2 linked regions of the Homo sapiens genome follow. The protein of the gene in region 1 purifies or fractionates together with the protein of each later gene. This does not show direct contact. Each region holds a gene or a part of one and is shown in the gene's direction. Other genes may lie near its edges.

Evidence for each region. Proteins that work in one complex are often made in the same cells at the same time.
Region 2: the proteins of CLEC4F (region 1) and CSGALNACT2 purify together in Homo sapiens (affinity purification with mass spectrometry; one large-scale study listed by BioGRID and IntAct). This does not show direct contact.

Annotation. Positions count from the first base shown.
Region 1 is NC_000002.12:70,814,100-70,817,599, reverse strand, and holds part of CLEC4F (C-type lectin domain family 4 member F), read left to right. Parts: intron 1-111; exon of another isoform or gene 112-402; coding exon of another isoform or gene 403-487; coding exon 488-1,606; intron 1,607-3,500. UniProt on the Homo sapiens protein: Receptor with an affinity for galactose and fucose. Could be involved in endocytosis.
Region 2 is NC_000010.11:43,179,945-43,183,444, forward strand, and holds part of CSGALNACT2 (chondroitin sulfate N-acetylgalactosaminyltransferase 2), read left to right. Parts: intron 1-3,305; coding exon 3,306-3,500. UniProt on the Homo sapiens protein: Transfers 1,4-N-acetylgalactosamine (GalNAc) from UDP-GalNAc to the non-reducing end of glucuronic acid (GlcUA). Required for addition of the first GalNAc to the core tetrasaccharide linker and for elongation of chondroitin chains.

The DNA of each region.
Region 1 (3,500 bases):
GTGAATCAAGAGGCTCTATGCTTGGTGTACAAATATAATGTAGGACTAACCACAGGCTTTATTCATACCTATTTTCTTTCCCATAATGACCCATCTGTGGTGAAATTCCAGTAAAATTAAACTTCAACAGCTCTAAATGATAAAATCAGTTACTTTCAAGTTGAGCAATTATAACGACAAAATAATCCAAGCCTTACCAGCATGACTCCTGGTGGCAGCTGGCTTACAGCAGGCAAGCATTTCAATCCTTCTGACCCCTTCATTTGTGTGTAACAGTGAATTAGATCTTTGTTTCTTGGCCCACATTCTCAGGTGGACCGTCCCCAGGGTCTGGGTGGCTGTGTGACCAGGAGGGTGCTTGGGGGAGCACTGAGGGCTGTGCAGTACCCATTTCCCTTGGAAATGTTAGAAACACTCTGGGTGGCCCATAAAATGCTACCCTACATAATGGGCCTCTTTGGCTGCCTTCTTCACTTCCTCCCTCCAGATCATCACCACTTTGGCAGGGAGGCAGAAATGCGAGAGCTTATCCAGACATTTAAAGGCCACATGGAGAATTCCAGTGCCTGGGTAGTAGAAATCCAGATGTTGAAGTGCAGAGTGGACAATGTCAATTCGCAGCTCCAGGTGCTCGGTGATCATCTGGGAAACACCAATGCTGACATCCAGATGGTAAAAGGAGTTCTAAAGGATGCCACTACATTGAGTTTGCAGACACAGATGTTAAGGAGTTCCCTGGAGGGAACCAATGCTGAGATCCAGAGGCTCAAGGAAGACCTTGAAAAGGCAGATGCTTTAACTTTCCAGACGCTGAATTTCTTAAAAAGCAGTTTAGAAAACACCAGCATTGAGCTCCACGTGCTAAGCAGAGGCTTAGAAAATGCAAACTCTGAAATTCAGATGTTGAATGCCAGTTTGGAAACGGCAAATACCCAGGCTCAGTTAGCCAATAGCAGTTTAAAGAACGCTAATGCTGAGATCTATGTTTTGAGAGGCCATCTAGATAGTGTCAATGACTTGAGGACCCAGAACCAGGTTTTAAGAAATAGTTTGGAAGGAGCCAATGCTGAGATCCAGGGACTAAAGGAAAATTTGCAGAACACAAATGCTTTAAACTCCCAGACCCAGGCCTTTATAAAAAGCAGTTTTGACAACACTAGTGCTGAGATCCAGTTCTTAAGAGGTCATTTGGAAAGAGCTGGTGATGAAATTCACGTGTTAAAAAGGGATTTGAAAATGGTCACAGCCCAGACCCAAAAAGCAAATGGCCGTCTGGACCAGACAGATACTCAGATTCAGGTATTCAAGTCAGAGATGGAAAATGTGAATACCTTAAATGCCCAGATTCAGGTCTTAAATGGTCATATGAAAAATGCCAGCAGAGAGATACAGACCCTAAAACAAGGAATGAAGAATGCTTCAGCCTTAACTTCCCAGACCCAGATGTTAGACAGCAATCTGCAGAAGGCCAGTGCCGAGATCCAGAGGTTAAGAGGGGATCTAGAGAACACCAAAGCTCTAACCATGGAAATCCAGCAGGAGCAGAGTCGCCTGAAGACCCTCCATGTGGTCATTACTTCACAGGAACAGCTACAAAGAACCCAAAGTAAGTGGGAGAGGGGAGTCGCGTTTGGGGAGGGCACAGTCTCTTGAGAGGGTAGAGTCTTCCATCTCATCAGCCTCTTTTTTACTGCAACATGCATCTCCTTGACCAAATCCAGGGAAATGGGCCCAAGGAAACTGGGCAGTTGTAGAGATGGTGTGAGGTGGGAAGTTCCTGCTCTCAAGTTGCTTATAACCTGGTCACGGTGACCAAATGAACACGGGAAACCAACTGTAAATGGTGCACGTGTGTGATAAGGACGGCATGGGCTAGTGGGCCACACAGCCTTATTTCTGACTTCCTGATACCCCAAATGGTATGACCTTGAGCCTGTTACTTACCTTCTCTGAGCTACACTTTTCTCATCTGCAAGGGGGAGACAATAATATTTGCATCACAGTGAGGATCCAATGAGTTCACACATGTAAGGCCTTTAACAAAGTACCTAGCATTCATGCCCTCACCCGATGCTTTATTGAGGCCCAGTGGTGTGCTGGGTAAAAAGGTGAATAAGGTGTGATAGGTACCCTTGAGAAGCTTACAGGCTAGTAGTACAGACTTGCATGAAAGACATACAGACAGGTATAAGGCTGATAGGTTAGAAGCAGGTACTGAGAACTGGGGTTGGGGGCAGAACAAAAAGAAGGGAAAAGGAATCTTCTAGGGGGAGGGAAGAGATCTGTGGGGAAAAGATCAAAAGATGCTTTGTGAGAAGATGGCTCTTGAACTTCATCCTGAAGGATGAGTAGGTGTTTGCCAAGCAAATAGGGTTTGCAGGCATGGAGACACAAAATCATGAGATTCTGGAAACTTCAGGCAGTTCTCTTTGACTGGCCTGTGGACAAGAGGGCAGCTGAGAGACAGAAGGGAGTGTTTGGGGCAGCCACTGAAGAAATGGGGGCTAACAAATGAGGGCTTGGTGGGCAGCAGTGACGTTCCACTTTACTGCTTTGCCCGGTTCCTGGTCTGGGGTCAGAGGCCCCACTTCTTCACACATCTCCTAGTGCCCCAATGTCCTTATTCCTCCCAGCTCTCACTGCTGCTTTAGCTGGGCCCAGTGTTTCTCCACTTTGGGGGCACACTGGAATCGCCCAAGGAGCTTTGAAAATACTGATGCCTGGGGACCCACCTCCAGAACTGTGATTTTTTTTTTTTTTTGGTGAGGGTGTCTGGCATCAGTATTCTTTTTTAAATGCCTAGGTGGATCTACTGGCATCTGGGCTGAGAACTATTAGCTTAATTTTTTTTCTTAAAGGACAAAGAACTAGATATCTTAGGCTTTGGGGCTGTACGATCTCTGTTACAACTACTCAACTCTGTTCGTAATTATAAAGCAAAAGAAAAAGACAGTAAACTAATGAGCATGGCTACGCTCATAATAAAATAAATTTTATTAAAAAGACACTGCTGACAGGCTAGAGTTTGCCAATGGTTGGTTTAGATGACTAGTTCTGGGCATCAGAACCCCCAGAGGGCTTGCTGAAGCAGATTGTTAAAACATAATTTTGGATTCAGTAGGGCTATGGTGGTCCTGAAAATTTGCATTTCTACCACGTTGTCAGGTGATGCTGATGGTCTGGGACCACACTTTTCGAACCCCTGATTTATACCCATCTCTTACTGGGACTTTCGCCATTGTGTTATCATTGGTGTTTCTGTCCTCATTAGGAGTACCTTCTTCTGGTTCAGCTTCCACCAGGTTGACGTTTTTCCAGTGCAAATCTGGACATATTACCATCCTTCTCAAAACCTTGCAGTGCTTCCCATTGCTCATAGGGAAAAAAAAATCCAAACTGTTTCACATGGGATGTACCATTTAGTGCTGGTGAACCTGTCCAAATTCATCACTCACCCATCCTTTATGTCCCAAGAATACCAAGTAGCTTGAATAGATCAG
Region 2 (3,500 bases), on another chromosome or scaffold:
GGAGCACTTTGTTCTTATGGACTTCCTCTCCCCCGGGGGAAAAAATCCATGAGGTTTTGCCCTGAGGATGGGGACAGTGACACACTTATTAAGCAGAGTGACCACCTCTGCCCTATGAGCAGGACACTGGGTAGGGGCAGGAGGACCCCCAGTATTCTCAGCTGGCCACACCTGGAAGTGGAGCCTCCACCCTGTTGCTGTGGGCTGGGTGAAAAAGAGCTGCACCTGTTTAGAACTTAGACTCTTTATTTGGAGCTTCTGTTCCCTTGTTTCCTTTCTTCCTGGTATTCCCATTATACATATGTTACATCTTTTGTAGTTGTCCCACCGTTCTTAGATATTTTGTTCATTTTATTTTCAGTCTTTTTTTTTCTTTGATTTTCTGTTTTGGAAATTTTTATTGTCATATCCTCAAGCTCAGAGATTGTTTCTTAAGCTAAGTCCGGTCTACTAATGAACCCATCTAAGGCATTCATTTATTTCGCAGTGTTTTTGATCTCTAGCATTTTTTTAAATTCCTTAGATCCATCTCACTGCTTATGTTCCGCATCTTGTGTGTTATCTGCTCTTTCCATTAGAGCCCTTAGAGTATTATACATAGTTGTTTTAAATTCCCAGCCTGATAATTCCAACATCCCTGCTGTATCTGAATCTGGATCTGGTACATGCTCTGTCTGTTCATACTGTGTTTTTCTTAACTTTTAGTATACCTTGTCATGTTTTCTGTTGAAAGTTGGACTTGATATACTGCGTAAAAGGAACTGCAATAAATAGGCCTTTGATGATGTGGTGGTGAAGTGTGGAGGGAGCGGAAGTGTTCTGTAGTCCCATAAGTAAGTCTCAATCTCTTAGTGATCCTGTATCCCAGACTCTGAATTTCACACATGCTTCTCAGTCTCCCCTCCTCTCCTGGACAGGATGACTAGAAGGGGCTCTAGTTGGGTAGATTTCTTCCTCCAAGTCAGTTAGGCACTGATAAAACCCCAGCAGGTTAGGCTCTGGTTAAATAACTTCTCCTAAGGACAGGCTTTGTTAATAATGACAACATGCTGTGGCATACTTTAAAATGATTACCTTTTCCCCTTCCCCACTGCTGGACGCATTAAGAGATTTTTCTCTGATCTTCACCACTGAGGACCTAATAGAGCTCCTAGAGGTAAAACTCACATGAGTATGGGGGTCCCAATATGACCAGGTCCCCCTGGAGTTTTTAACACTCAGACTTACCTCCCCTGAGCCTCCAGCAATTTGTCGATTACAGTTAGGGTTTTCCTACCTGGGTACTGGTCCCCACAGAGATTTCTGCTCCAGTAAGTTGGAATTCTTTGTATCTGCCTATCTGTCTCACCAGTTTTGAGGGCAGTGGTTTACCCTGTGACCTCACTTCTCTGTGAGAGACCTAAGAGGAGTTGTTGCTTTTTCAGTGTTCAGCTTTTGACTTGTTAGGATGGAGTGATGACTTCTAGCTCCAGGCATGCCAGACCAGAAACTGAGAATGCCCCATTTGTTTTAAGTATATGTACCATCTCTAATATTCTAAGAGCTTATATCTACAAGGAAGAAAAGCTGATATGTATCAGACATAGCATTTAGTAAAGCTCTGATTGTTTAATACTTTTCAGAGATCCCCAGATTATTGTCCATCCTGTTAATGTGAAATTAAGTGGGATAGAATTATTTGACAGGAGCCGGGCATGGTGGCTCGAACTTGTGGTCCCACTTACTAAGGAGGCTAAGGCAGAAGGATCACTTGAGCCCAGGAGATGGAGGCTGCAGTGAGCTATGATTGCACCTCTGCACTCCAGCCTGGGCAACAGAGTGAGAACACATCTCTGAAAAATAAAAATTATTTGACAGGCCAGGCACGGTGGCTCACGCCTGTAATCCCAGCACTTTGGGAGGCCGAAGTGAGTGGATCATCTGAGGTCAGGAGTTCAAGCTTACGAAGATGACGGGATTAAGAGATTAAAGTAAAGACAGGCAATCACAAGGGTATTGATTGGGGAAGTGATAAATGTCCATGAAATCTTCACAATTTATGTTCAGAGATTGCAGTAAAGACAGGAGTAAGAAATTATAAAAGTATTAATTTGGGGAACTAATAAATGTCCATGAAATCTTCACAATTTATGTTCTTCTGCCATGGCTTCAGCCAGTCCCTCCATTCGGGGTCCCTGACTTCCTGCAGCAGCCCACTCCAGTTAGCCTTCTGCCCCATCACTCTATCAGAATTGTTCTGGGGAAGTTTATAAGTAACATTTATGCTGCCAGGTCCAGTCAGTTCTTCTTAAATTCTTCACTGAATAGCACACACTTGACAACTTCTTCCTCAAGACACTTTCTTCACGTGGCTACTACAATGGCACCTTTTCCAGAATTTTCTCCCTCACCTGGGGCCACTTCTCAATCTCATTTCCTGACTTAACTTTCTTTACCTCTATTTAACCTCTAGAAATTGGCATTTCTTAGTGTTTAGACCTAGGCCCTGTTTTCCTTCCAAATTCCTTCAGTAATTTCATTCATTCCTGTAGCTTTAAATAATCTATGGACCCATTCTCAAATTTATATCTCCAGCTTGGCCCTTTCTTCTTTTTCCACTCTGGGGAGTTTTTCTATAGCCCAGAAAAGCGTGTGTCTCAAAGGACAGAAAATGTGGCTGGTCGCAGTGGCTAATGCCTGCAATCCAGCACTTTGGGAAGCCAAGTGGGCGGAACACTTGAACCCAAAGTTCGAGACCAGCCTGGGCAACATGGTGATACCCCATCTCCACCAAAAAAAAAAAAAAAGCTGAGTATGGTGACATGCGCCTGTGGTCCCAGCTACTCGGGGCTGAGATGGGAGGATCGCCTGAGCCACGGAGGTCGATGCTGCAGTGAGCCATGATCACACCACTGCACTCCAGCCTGGGTGACAGAGTGAGACCCTGTCTCAAAAAAAAAAACAAAAAAAAAAAGAAAACATAAAAAGTTAATGGTGGTGAGATTATAGGTGACTTGTATTTTCTTCTCCTTTATTTGACTTTTTGTAGATTTTCTACAGGACTTTGAAATTTACAAAGTGTTCTTAAATATTTAACCCCATTTTGATACTGTCAACAACCAACCTTGAGCTCCTTGAGTCCAAGTGTCAGCTCAAAACTGGACTTCCGGTGACTGGGAGTCACTCCTCCATGCCAGGTGTCTCGTGCTACCTTTTTGCTGAACCATCCCATCCCTTTTGAAGCAGAACATTTAAAATTTTATATATATCCCTGTGCTCTGGCTAATAATAGGCAGTTATTTATAGTGTCAATTTTGATCTTACAGGTGGATTTGACATGGAAGTGAAAGGTTGGGGTGGAGAAGATGTTCATCTTTATCGAAAATACTTACATGGTGACCTCATTGTGATTCGGACTCCGGTTCCTGGTCTTTTCCACCTCTGGCATGAAAAGCGCTGTGCTGATGAGCTGACCCCCGAGCAGTACCGCATGTGCATCCAGTCTAAAGCCATGAATGAGG